Linked DNA regions of Homo sapiens: regions 1 and 2 are each linked to region 3. Evidence: fine-mapped expression QTL. A gene starts in region 3. Each other region holds a variant in brackets. All regions are shown on one strand. Distances are between the middles of the regions.

Region 1 (4,214 bases), 43 kb after region 3:
GGACTACAGGCATGTGCCACCACGCCTGGCTAATTTTTTGTGTCTTTAGTAGAGATGAGGTTTCACCATGTTGGCCAGCTGGTCTGGAGCTCCTGACCTCAGGTGATCTGCCTGCCTTAGCCTCCCAAAGTGCTGGGACTACAGGCGTGAGCCACCACGCCTGGCTGCTCCACCATCACTTTATCCTGCCTGTATTCCCCAGTTCTCCTCCACCAGTGTTTCCAGATCCAGAGCTGTTTAGACATAGGGTATTCAGAAAGTTGTGGTTTTGTTATTTTAAGATTTTAAAGTTCACTTCAATGTAAGGAAGTTAGTAAATGTCTGTGCTATGAGGAAAAGTTGATTCTGAATGGGTTGGTTTAACTCCTACAGTCTTAGATAAGAACTTGTTAATCGTATAAACATACTGTTTCAAAGAAAAAGCCAATTATAATTACTTTTATACATACATAAATCTATGAGTAAGATGAAGAAGTCAAATCAAAGGATTTTATTTCATTTCTGAGAATAATTTTGTATCTCACTTGCTGTTTCTCAATAATATTGTATAATTTTATTTCTGATTTTTAAAAATAAGCAAACTGCCCTTGACCTCAAAGAGAAAAAAAAAATTTTTAATTTGATATTTGTGTGACCCTTTAGCTCAAAAAGGGATAAAAGACTTATAAAGAAAAGCCGGGCATGGTGGCTCATGCCTGTAATCCCAGTACTTTGGGAGGCCGAGGCAGGAGGATCATGAGGTCAGGAGAGCGAGACCATCCTGGCTAACACGGTGAAACCCCATCTCTACTAAAAATACAAAAAAATTAGCCAGGTGTGGTGGCGGGTGCCTGTAGTCCCAGCTACTCGGGAGGCTGAGGCAGGAGAATGGCGTGAACCTGGGAGGTGGAGCTTACAGTGAGCCAAGATCGCGCCACTGCACTCCAGCCTGGGGACAGAGCGAGACTCCGTCTCAAAAAAAAAAAAATTTATAAAAGAAGATGTGAACCAAAGGATATACTTGGCTTGAATAGTATTAAGTATTTAAGTAAGTCTTTCTAAACATTTTATATCATTTAATGGAATTGTAAATCCCCTGAACAAAAAATATTTGGTGGAGAGGACTTTTATGAAAGTCAAAGCAACATTTCTTTTTACCTATTTCCTAAAGGTTGCTGTTGAAGAAATCTGGTTGCAGAACACCACGGATTGAATTGGAAGAGATGGGACCCTCATTGGATCTGGTTCTGAGGAGGACACACCTGGCATCGGATGACCTTTATAAATTATCTATGAAAATGCCAAAAGCTCTCAAGGTATATAACTTAGAGCTTGGTACCACATTTATTTGTATTTTCTACTTTAATCCTTTTTCTTTCCAAAAAGAATTTGTGGCATATTATATTAAAAGACAAGGACAGGCCAGGCGCGGTGGCTCACGCCTGTAATCCCAGCACTTTGGGAGGCCGAAGTGGGTGGATCACAAGGTCAGGAGATCGAGACCATCCTGGCTAATACAGTGAAACCCCGTCTCTATGAAAAATACAAAAAATTAGCTGGGCGTGGTAGCGGGCGCCTGTAGTCCCAGCTACTTGGGAGGCTGAGGCAGGAGAATGGCGTGAACCGGGGAGGTGGAGCTTGCAGTGAGCAGAGATCACGCCATTGCACTCCAGCGTGGGTGACAGAGTGAGCCAAAAAAAAAAAAAAAAGACAAGGACATATATAAAGAGATCAATACAATAGATTAAACTAGGACTCACAGAGCCAGGAAAAGGAGAGAGAACCAAATAAGCCAACAATAAGGGATAATAAAAAAAGAGTTGCAAAACCCAGACATGAGGTTTGGCTAAGTGCCTTCTGATAGTCAAGACTGTTGTTTTCAGCAAAAGAAAGAGAGTTGTTTGGTACACTGTAAAGGCTAAGGATTTAGAGTACAGGGTATATAAACCATATGTGCATAAAATGTGTTTTGACTTTTTAAGTAGTTTTAAAAGACAAGAAGAAATGTAATCTCTAAAATGCCAATAGAAATTGAAACAATAGTCACAACTTCTTAAGCTAAACACAGGCTATTTTCTTGATGTGTGACAGTGGTTAGTGTAGTTTATAGTTTTGTTTTTCAAAGTGTGGCCTGACAGTTTACCTGGGAATTGTGCAGAATATCAGGCCCTACCCTAGACATACTGAATTAGGATCTGTATTTTAGCAAGATCCCAAGTGATTTGTATGCACACTTAAGTTTGAGAAGAAAAGTGTATAGGGCTATATACTGTGTCACTGAAGGGGCAGGCACTAATGGAAATTGCTACTAAGATAGTTGTTACAGACTAGATTTTTACTGGCTCATTATAGTAGAAGGCCATTAAATATATACATATTCTTTTATCGTAGCCAAAGAAGAAGAAAAATATTTCCCATGATACTTTTGGTACAACTTATGGAAGGATTCATATGCAGAAGCAAGACCTAAGCAAACTACAAACCAGGAAAATGAAGGGGTTGAAGAAGCGACCTGCAGAAAGGATAACAGAAGACCACGAGAAAAAGTCAAAAAGAATTAAAAAAAATTGATGGAACTTAGCCAGCCACTACT[G/A]TTTCATTGTGTTCTACTTAAGAGAATTATCAAGCGTCAATCCATTCAGAGTTTCTTATAAGATCTTATTATATATTTTTATAACATGATAATTTTACGATATATTATTATGAACAGTAATATACTAGTATTAAGTGTAAAGTAAGCCTTTTATTTGAGACATTACACCCTGGTGTGCCATTTTCTCTTGTGATATCCCCTGCCCTCCACAAATTCTTCTTTCTCATTGGGTGGATGGATGGGTGAGGAGGGATCTCCATAACCATTGGGATTTTTTTGAATTTCTGGCCTTAGCTAAAGAAAGCCACAGAAAGCCGGACCCGCAGGAGCTGTGTAAACAATCTCAGTATGAATTACCTGGAAAGTTAACCTCCTCTCCCAACATGGATCTACATTCTGATTTTTATTTTCTACTTTTATTTTGCCTGAAATCCTACTCGTTGACATTTGAGATTTTAAGCTTTGTGGCTGAAAATATATAGATCTCTGAGAGGGATGTCTGCTATCTGATTATTGATAAATTACACTACTGTTGATTGTTTTAAGAGACTCTACTACTAAGTAGAGCCCACCCCGCTTCTCTGAGACGAAACCTGTGTTTTTTGGTTGGTTTGTTTTTAAGAGATGGGGTCTTGTTCTGTCACCTAGGGTGGAGTGCAGTGGCACAATCACAGCTCACTGCAGCCCTGAACTCCTGGGCTCAAGTAATCCTCCTGCCTGAGCCTCTTACGTAGCTGGGATTACAGGCATGAGCCACTGAGCCCTACTTTTTTTTTTTAAAGCAATGAGGTCTTGCTGTGTTGCCCAGGCTGGACTCAAATTCCTGGGCTCAAGTGATCCTCCCACTTCACCTTCCTGAGCAGCCGGAACTACAGATGTTGGTCCACTGCACCTGGCAGAAAAGAAGTTTTGATAGGGGCAGAAATGAAAAAGGAGAAAACAGGTGAGTTTTAAGGTGCAGGGCACTTTAGGGTACTGGGTAGCCCTAGGTAGCTAAAGGTTGCATGAAGGCCCTGGGCGTTTGCAGATGGTGTAGAAGCCAGCCAAAGCCTAACTACTTGTTTTGAAAGTTTCTTGAAGACAGGCCTTGTGCCTAGGAAAACAGAAGCTTTCTTCTTCCTTCTACTAGTATTGCATACTTGTTTTTCTGGAATAGGGTGTTAAGTTCCTTGATTCAGTCCTTGACAAGGAATCTCCTTTATACAAGTGCCAGTAATGTTGTAAAGGTACAGACATACGCAAATCATAATTTGTTACATGAAGTACCAGTGCTTTCTTTTTTGTTGTTTTTTGAGACAGAGTCTCGCTCTGTCGCTCAGGCTGGAGTGCAGTGGCGCGATTTCAGTTCACTGCAACCTCCACCTCCCAGGTTCAAGCATTCTTCTGCCTCAGCCTCCCGAGTAGCTGGGATTACAGGCACCCACCACCACGCCTGGCTGATTTTTTGTAGAGACAGGGTTTCACTTCAATTCCATGTTAGAGAGCTCCGTGCCTGTGTATACATGCCTTTATGTAAGCTTGCTCAGCTACAGATCAACAATGCTGGCACTAAGCAAAAGTTCGAGCCTCAGCTTTACCTTCTACCCTTTCCCTTCTCTTTTGAATCCATTCCTTAGCTTTCCCTAGTCCTCTCCGGATAGCT
Region 2 (4,242 bases), 50 kb after region 3:
GGCTCAGCCTTTCGGAGGCCGCTCGGTTTATGGCACTGGGAGAGCGTGAGAATTCTTTACTGTCCCCATGAGGCCCCATTTCATCCATCTGGCTCCCCAGTCAAAGCTAGTGAATGCCACAAATATGTTTTGAATTTTACCCCCAGCACCTTCCTCCATTAAGGGTGACCTTGGGGAAAGGTTAGACAGAATCTTGAAAAATCAATCAAAGCTCAAGTGGCATGAGAGCTCAAAAGCAGCATCACCATACGGGCAGGAGAGTATGTGGGAGTGGCAGACAGGGCAGTGTTGTGGGAAGGAGTGTGGCATTAAATGAAACCGACACAACCCTCGCCTGCTACTCTGAGAGCTCAGCTGAGATTTAAAAGGACAATTAAAAGATACAGTGCATAAAACCATGGGCAACACCAATTAGTAATATGGTTCTCTAAGAAAAGTGAAAATGTTTGCAGACTCAAGAAATGCAAAGGGCAATCAATGTGGCTTTGTTTTGTGGTAGTAGTAGTAGCAGTATGACAAAGAATTTTAAAAGGGGACTTGATAAGGCAACTGGTATAATACTGGCTGATGAAATTCCCATGTTATCTCCATTCTTAGAAAATGAGAGGAGTAGCCATCATGATTGAGAAATAGGGCTCCCGAAAGTAATTCTATCCTAACCTCAAGGTGGGTGAAATATGGCATGCAAAGCACCTGGCCGCTTGAAATAACTGAGTCTCCATTCCAAACATGCACATTCAGTTAATCTTGAAGGAACTATGGGGACGTAGAATGAGGCAGAGAACTGGTGACAGATACCTTCTAGTTTTGACTCTGGCAAAATTATAAGAAGAATCATGTAGGTGCCTCATGAGCTCTTACTTAGAATTGGAAATAGTCATCACTAGGAGCCAGCCTGGGTTCCCTGAGAGTTAAGAGTGTTAACCCATTTCCTTTTTTGAAACAGATACTTTCCCGGTAGAGCGTTGAAGTCAAAATTGTAGAGACGAATCTCTAAATTTGTTTTACTTGGGAGAAAGAATTGTAACCATAATAAATTTGTTGCCTGAGGCACACAGCAAGTCAATACACTGAGACACCAGGTTGCAGCAGAGAAAGAAGAAGAATCATAAAAATTTGAACCAGGAGGTCGGGCATGGTCGCTCACACCTATAATCCCAGCACTTTGGGAGGCCAAGGCGCACAGATCGCTTAAGCTCAGGAGTTCGAGAACAGCCTGACCAACATGGCAAAATCCCATCTCTACTAAAAATACAAAAATAAACCGGGCACAGTAGTACACGCTATTTATTGCAGCTACTCAGGAGGCTGAGGCAGGAGAACCGCTCGAACTCAGGAGGTGAAAGTTGCAGTGAGCTGAGATCACGCCACTGCACTCCAGCCTGGGCGACAGAGTGAGACCCTGTCTCAAGAGAAAAAGAAAAGAAAAGAAAAATTTGAATGAGGAGATGGGAAGAAACCTCAGATACAATTCTAAGGAATTTGAGGTTAGGATTTTTTAGGGTTTTAGAGATTGTTAATTGATGAAAGAGTGCAAAGTGAAGTCATAGGACAGGGAGATGAAGAAACTATTCTCATACTGATCCCCTTCCTCTGGTGGGATCTTCAAGCTGGTTGGCATCAGCTGTTTTGTTGGAATTCGGGGTCTGAAAAACATCTGTTTGTTTTTGTTTTTTTGAGATAGGGACTTGCTCTGTCACCCAGTGTGATTATAGCTCACTGCAGCCTCGAACTCTTTGGGCTCCAGCAGTCCTCCAAACTCAGCCTCCCAAATAGGTAGAACTACAGGCGCGCACTACCAGGGCCAGCTAATTTTTTAATATTTTTGTAGGAAGATACGGGGTCTTGCTATGTTCCCCAAGCTGGTTGAACTCTGCCTCAAGCAGTCCTCCCATCTCGGCCTCCCA[A/G]AGTGCTGGGATTTCAGGCTCTCGCCACCATACCTGGCCCTGAAAAACATTTTAAGTGATCCTTAAACAAAAGTGTTATGATCTAATGTTCAGAGACCCTGTAGGAACAATGGGGATGCAAGTCAATTCTTAGTCTTATGACCCTGATGTCAGAAATCCTGTCCATCATACAGTGGGGATGCAGATGGTCAGTATCTAGTGCTATGTGATTTAGCAACAAGGAAGTGGGCCAAAGGGCAGCTTGATTAATGATAAATTATAACTACATTTCTGGCCAGAACCTAACATGCAATTCTTGTCGACCCTGTGAGGGTGGTTTCAGAATTTATAAGTTCAGACATACATGCAGACTGGGTGGTCTTCGGAATGTCTGAAGAACAAAGAAAAGGCCAGAGGTTTTATTAAAAAGGAGAAATGTTATGTATTGCTCTTTGAGAAAGTTCGTTGGCACTGTGGGTTTGGGGAGCTGGGAGCTCTGATCGGTGAGCAACAGCAGAGGGCAAAATTAGTCCTAGAATTGTAGCAAGTTATCTCAGAAGCTATAGATAAAACTGGTTTCAGCTTACAACAAGCAGCTTCAGCAGCCAGGCTTGCAAAGAAAGTCTATTCTTGGAGCAATGCTTTGGTACCCTGAATGTTTTTCCTCCTAGCTTCTTGACTCTGTTTTAGTTGGATCTGACAAGAATGACCCAATTCTTATGGTTCAACTTTCACAGGACAATAACCAATCACTCCACATTTATCAAGCATTATTATGTTTCAGGCATTGGGAATAACACCTGACACTGTATATGTTTACAATTTAGAAAGCATTTTCTTTCTTTCCTTTTTGTTTTTCTTTTTCTTTTTTCTTTTTTTTTTTTTTGAGACAAGTCTTGCTCTGTCACCCCAGGCTGGAGTGCAGTGGCACGGATCTTGGCTCACTGCAACCTCCGCCTCCCAGGTTCAAGTGATTCTCCTGCCTCAGCCTTCTGAGTGGCTGGGATTACAGGCGCCCACCACCATGCCTGGCTAATTTTTGTATTTTTAGTAGAGATGGGTTTTTGCTATGTTGGCCAGGCTGGTCTGGAACTCCTGACCTCAGTTGATCTGCCCGACTCGGTCTCACAAAGTGCTGGGATTACAGGGGTGAGCCACCACACCAGGCCAAGCATTTTCTTTCAAATACAAGGAATATTTTTCTGATTTAAAAAAAAAAAACGAACTTTTTTTCTGATAATCAAAGGGAAAGTTGCAAAGATGAAAATAAAAGTCATCTGTAATCTCAGGTAATACCAGGTAATTAACATTTTGCTGTATTTCTTACCACTGAAAAAAATGCATAGTTTTAAGCTGGGTGTGGTGGTGAGCATGTAGTCCCAGTTAAGTGCCCAAAGGGTTCACTTTACCGGCTGCCTAGACAGAGTCGATTTACCAAGACAGGGGAATTGCAATGGACAAAGAGTAATTCACGCAGAGCCGGCTATGTGGGAAACCAGAGTTTTATTATTACCCAAATCAGTCTCCCTGAGCATTTGGGGATCAGAGTTTTCAAAGATAATTTTGCGGGTAGGGGCTTGGGAAGTGGGGAGTGCTGATTGGTCAGGTTGGAGATGGACTCACAGGGGGCGGAAGTGAATTTTTCTTGCTCTCTTCTGTTCCTGGGTGGGATGGCAGAACTGGTTGAGCCAGATTGCCGTCTGGGTGGTGTCAGCTGATCCATCGAGTGCAGGGTCTGCACAATAGCTCTGATCGTAGGTTTCACAATGGTGATATTATCCCCAGGAGCAATTTGGGAAGGTTCAGACTCTTGGAGCCAGAGGCTGCATGACCCCTAAACTGTAATTTCTAGCCTTGTAGCTAATTTGTTAGTCCTGCGAAGGCAGACTGGTCCCCAGGCAAGAAGGGGGTCGTTTCAGGAAAGAGCTATTACCAATTTTGTTTCTAGAGTCAAACCATGAACTGAATTCCTTCCCAAAGTTGGTTCAGCCTATGCCCAGGGATGAACAAGGACAGCTTAAAGGTTAGAAGCAAGATGGAGTTGTTTAGGTCTGATTTCTTTCACTGTCATAATTTCCTCAGTTATAATTTTTGCAAAGGGGATTTCGCCAGCTACTCAGGAGACTGAAGCAGGAGAGTTCCTTAAGCCCAGGTGGCCTTAGTATGCTATAATCATGCCTGTGAATAGCCACTGTACTCCAGCCTGAGTAACATAGCAAGACCTTGTCTCTAAAAAAATAAAAATAGGACCAGGCACGGTGGCTCACACGTATAATTTCAGGAGTATTGCTTGTGGCCAGAAGTTCAAGACTAGCCTGGGCAACATATCAAGATCCTGTCTCTACAAACAATTTAA
Region 3 (4,244 bases):
CACGCGCTTGTGGTCCCAGCTACTCGAGAGGCTGAAGCACTAGAATCACTTGAACCCAGGAGATGGAGGTTGCAGTAACCTGAGATTGCATCACTGCACTCCAGCCTGTGTGACAGAGTGAGACTCTGTCTCAGAAACAAAACAAAGCAAAGCAAAACAAAACAAAAAAACACAAAGCAGCATAATCCATAATAGCCAAAAAATAGGAACCATTCAAATGTACATAAGCTGCCGGGTACAGTAGCTCACGCCTGTATTCCTAGCACTTTGAGAGGCCAAGGCGGGTGGATTACCTGAGCTCAGAAGTTCAAGACCAGCCTGGCCAACATGGTGAAACCCTGTCTCTACTAAAAAATACAAAAGTTAGCAAGGTGTGGTGGTGCGTGCATGTAATCCCAGCTACTTGGGAGGCTGAGGCAGAACTGCTTGAACCCGGGAGGTGGACGGCGCAGTAAGCCAAGATCGCACCACTGCACTTCAGCCCTGGCGACAGAGCAAGACTATGTCTAAAATAAAAAAAGTACCTAGGTTGATAAATGGATAAACAAAATGTGGTATATCCATACAAAGGAATATTATTCAGTCCTAACAAAATGGAAGTACTGATCCACGCTACATGTATGAACCTCAAAAAGATAGTGAAAGAAGTCAAACACAAAAGGCCATACGTTGCACGAAACCATTTATATATGTTCAGAATAGGCAAATCCATTGAACATAAAGTAGATTATTGGTTGCCAAGGGCTGGCAGGAGGGGGAAGTGGGGCATGGACTGCTACTGGGTGTGTGTGTCAGGGGGGTTCTTTTTGAGGTGATTAAATATTCTGGAATTAGTGGTGATATTTGCACATCTTTGTGAATACACCAAAAATCACTGAATTGTACACTGTAAAGGGGTACATTTTATGGTATGTGAAGTATATGGTAACTTAAAAACTGGGGAAAAATCACGAACAGCAGTACATTTTCTGCGCATCTTTTATGTACTAGGCAACTGTGGTAGTCATAAATTCTGTCACACAGATCGCATAGTTGTCAATAGTGCCCCTTTCACATCAATGTTTTTAGTGCTTATGTGAGTACCTACCGTGCAATCAATCAACCTTTCTAGCATCCTGGGATTCCTTGAAGAATAAAATCTGGTTTCTGAATACCTGACTCCAGGTATGCACACTAGCGCGTACATCAAACTGCGAGGGTCTATGTTATTTTATTTTATTTTTATTTTATTTTTGAGACGAAGTCTCGCTCTGTCACCCAGGCTGGAGTGCAGTGGCGCGATCTCCGCTCACTGCAACCTCCGCCTCCCGGGTTCAAGCAGTTCTCCCTGCCTCAGCCTCCCGAGTAGCTGGGGTTAGAGGCGCCCGCCACCACGCCCGGCTAATTTTTGTATTTTTAGTAGAGACGGGGTTTCGCCATGTTGGCCAGGCTGGTCTCGAACTCCTGTTATCAGGTAATCCGCCCGCCTGGGCCTCCCAAAATCCTGGGATTACAGGCGTGAGCCACCACGCCCGGCCAGTGTTACTTAAAAGTATTACCTCGCACCTGTAACTCCAGGAAAGAGCCGGGGCAAAAATCCGTAACCAAGACAACAGGGCGCGATTCCAATCAAGATGGCCGCCAGCGCCTCTAGACGCCCTCTACGAGGCCGTCCCCGGAAGTGGCGTTACGCGCAGCTTCCGGTTCCGCCTGTTCCGGCGCACGTAATCGCCGAGGGCACGTGCATGCCCCCTGGTTAAGAGTTGCAGGTAGCGGTAGCGATGGACACTCTGGATCGAGTAGTGTAAGTGCGCTGGGTCTCAGCCCCGGGGAGCGTTGGGGTGAAAGGGTCCCGTGATGAGGGTGGTACTGTCTCGGCCTCTCACTCTTCCTGGTTACCCCTCTAATTACCTGGGTGGGGGCCGATCGATCACCAGCCCGGGTCCTCCTCAGCGCGAGCTGCTTGCCAGGAGACAGTGGGGAAGCTCTCAAGTGGGAGCCGTGGGATGGGAGGGATGTGGGATTGAAGCGTTGGCCGCTTTTATCCTAGCCAGTTGAAAAACGTCTGACTTCCGAAGTATGAGACAGATGGTATAGTGGGGTTAGGAGCACAGCCCTCGGAATCCGACAGATCTGAGTGACAGTCTGGCGCGTCCACTTAAAGCTTTGTGACTTTGGGTCATTAAATATCTCTAAATCTTAGCTTATTCTGTAAAATAGCGCTCACCATAGTCATACTTCATAGAGCTGTGAGGGTTAGTTTCGAGAATGTATGTAGAGCCTTTGCTGCAGCACGTAGAAATGTTCATTAGTTTTTTCTTTTCCTTCCAACTTTGTACACTCCTCTGAGTTATCCTTGAATGATACCTGTTTTAAATTTGTTCAAGAATATTTGGGCTAAACAGCCCTGCTGTTACTTGCTGTGATTTTCTTGCTATTTACCTAAGTTAACATGTATCCAAAACGACAGTTTTAGTCATTCAGAGATTTTGCACACCTGCTATGCCTCTAGCTGTTTGGACTACAAAGAGTAGTTTACTAGGTATTGGGACTAGTTCACACGTTAATTGGGAGCAGGCAGCTAATAAAACATGTTAATTGCTATTTGCATTTGTTGCTGTTTAATGAGATACAAAAGATAGAATAATTTGTATCTTTATCAACCAGTAAATGATCAGAAGCTTTATATGTGACATTATATCTGGAGGAGTATTTTAAAAATCTACATGGGAAACTTAAGTGTATGTATGGTCTCTTTTTCTTCCCAAAGTGTCCATGGGACTGGACGAGGGAGGGTCATAATTATTTGGGAGGAAGAATTCTTTCAGTAGATGGCAGAGAACTGTCTGAAAAGCAAGGTGCTCATTGTAGAGGAAGCAGAGGTGAAGCCCCTCTTTTGAACAGAAGTGTGTAAAAACATGCCACTCCTACTGTCACATCATAAAGTCAGAATAATGAATTTATTTTCCCTTCATATTTTACAGGGTAATTGGTCTAGACGAATTTTTAAATCTAGCTTTAAAAAATTTGTTTTTTTTTGAGACAGGGTATCACTCTGTCACCCAGGCTGGAGTGCAGTAGCCCCATCACAGCTCACTGCAGCCTCGACCTCCCTGGGATCAAGCAGTCCTCCTACCTCAGCCTGCTGAGTAGCTGGGACTATAGGCGCACACCACCACAGCTAATTTTTGTATTTTTTGTAGAGACAGGGTTTTGCATTGTTGCCCAGGCTGGTCTCGAACTTCTGGGCTCAGTGATCCATCCACCTTGGCCTCCTAGAGTGTTTTTATTACAGGCTGTGGGCCACCTCCCAGCCCTAGCTCATTTTAAAAATTGGCCTGTTTACTTGCTGTGTGATCTTGGGCACATTACCTGTCTGTTCAATTGCCTCATCTGTAAAGTGAAGATAAGAATTGTAACTCGCGCGTGGAGGCTCACGCCTGTAATCCCAGCACTTTGGGAGGCTGAGGCGGGGGGGTGGGTCACGAGGTCAGGAGATCGAGACCATCCTGGCTAACACGGTGAAACCTCGTCTGTACTAAAAATACAAAAAATTAGCCGGGCGTCGTGGCGGGCGCCTGTAGTCCCAGCTACTCGGGAGGCTGAGGCAGGAGAATGGCGTGAACCTGGGAGACGGAGCTTGCAGTGAGCCGAGATCGCACCACTGCACTCCAGCCTGGGCGACAGAGCGAGACTCTGTCTCAAAAAAATAAATAAATAAATAAATAAGAATTGTAACTCTCAGGATTGTGGTGAAGATTAAGCCTTAATAGAGTGACTCCATGTAAACATCAGCCTTATTATTCCCCATTGTTGGCAATAATACTGGCATTCTCAGCAATGATGTTGGAGTGCAACAGTGTATACTTCCTGGCAGGCATTGTGGTCTTAAACCTAAAAGAAAAATAAGCAGTCGTTAGTCTTATGTTTAGTAAATGTCCACAGGTTGATCAGCAGTTGATGCTCAATTCTTTGTATTAGGGTACAGGATACAGTTTGACTACTTAAAGTTTGAAGAAAAAAGAAGAGTAAGAAAGAGTAAGAGAAAAAAAACAGCAACAGTATTTACTTGAGCCTTTTATTTTTTACTTAAAAAAAAGATTGGAAAGAGCAGTAATAAAAGAATGGTGGGAATACAAAAATGAAAGCTTTTTTTTAAAAGCTATCAAAACACTTATTTAACAATAATAAGGAAATATCTTTTACTAATATCTACCAAAAAAGTGAGATTTTGGCCGGCCCTTGTGGCTCGCACCTGTAATCCC

The links. PIP is the estimated chance that this variant, and not a neighbour inherited with it, causes the effect. A credible set is the group of variants that fine-mapping cannot tell apart.
Region 1: its variant is the best candidate, but not a certain one, in a credible set for the expression of RPF2 in skeletal muscle (GTEx, PIP 0.57).
Region 2: its variant is the best candidate, but not a certain one, in a credible set for the expression of RPF2 in whole blood (INTERVAL, PIP 0.63).

The regions. Positions count from the first base shown.
Region 1 is chr6:111,023,033-111,027,246 of GRCh38, forward strand. RPF2 (ribosome production factor 2 homolog) reads left to right here. Exons shown (of 10, transcript NM_032194.3): 9 at 1,151-1,295; 10 at 2,371-4,214. The coding sequence ends at 2,550. Among named protein-coding and RNA genes, the nearest start is that of RPF2, 43 kb to the left of the region's middle. The variant G/A (reference allele first, on the strand shown) is at 2,573.
Region 2 is chr6:111,030,532-111,034,773 of GRCh38, forward strand. No RefSeq gene overlaps it. Among named protein-coding and RNA genes, the nearest start is that of RPF2, 51 kb to the left of the region's middle. The variant A/G (reference allele first, on the strand shown) is at 1,908.
Region 3 is chr6:110,980,347-110,984,590 of GRCh38, forward strand. RPF2 (ribosome production factor 2 homolog) reads left to right here and starts at 1,692. Exons shown (of 10, transcript NM_032194.3): 1 at 1,692-1,783. The coding sequence starts at 1,761.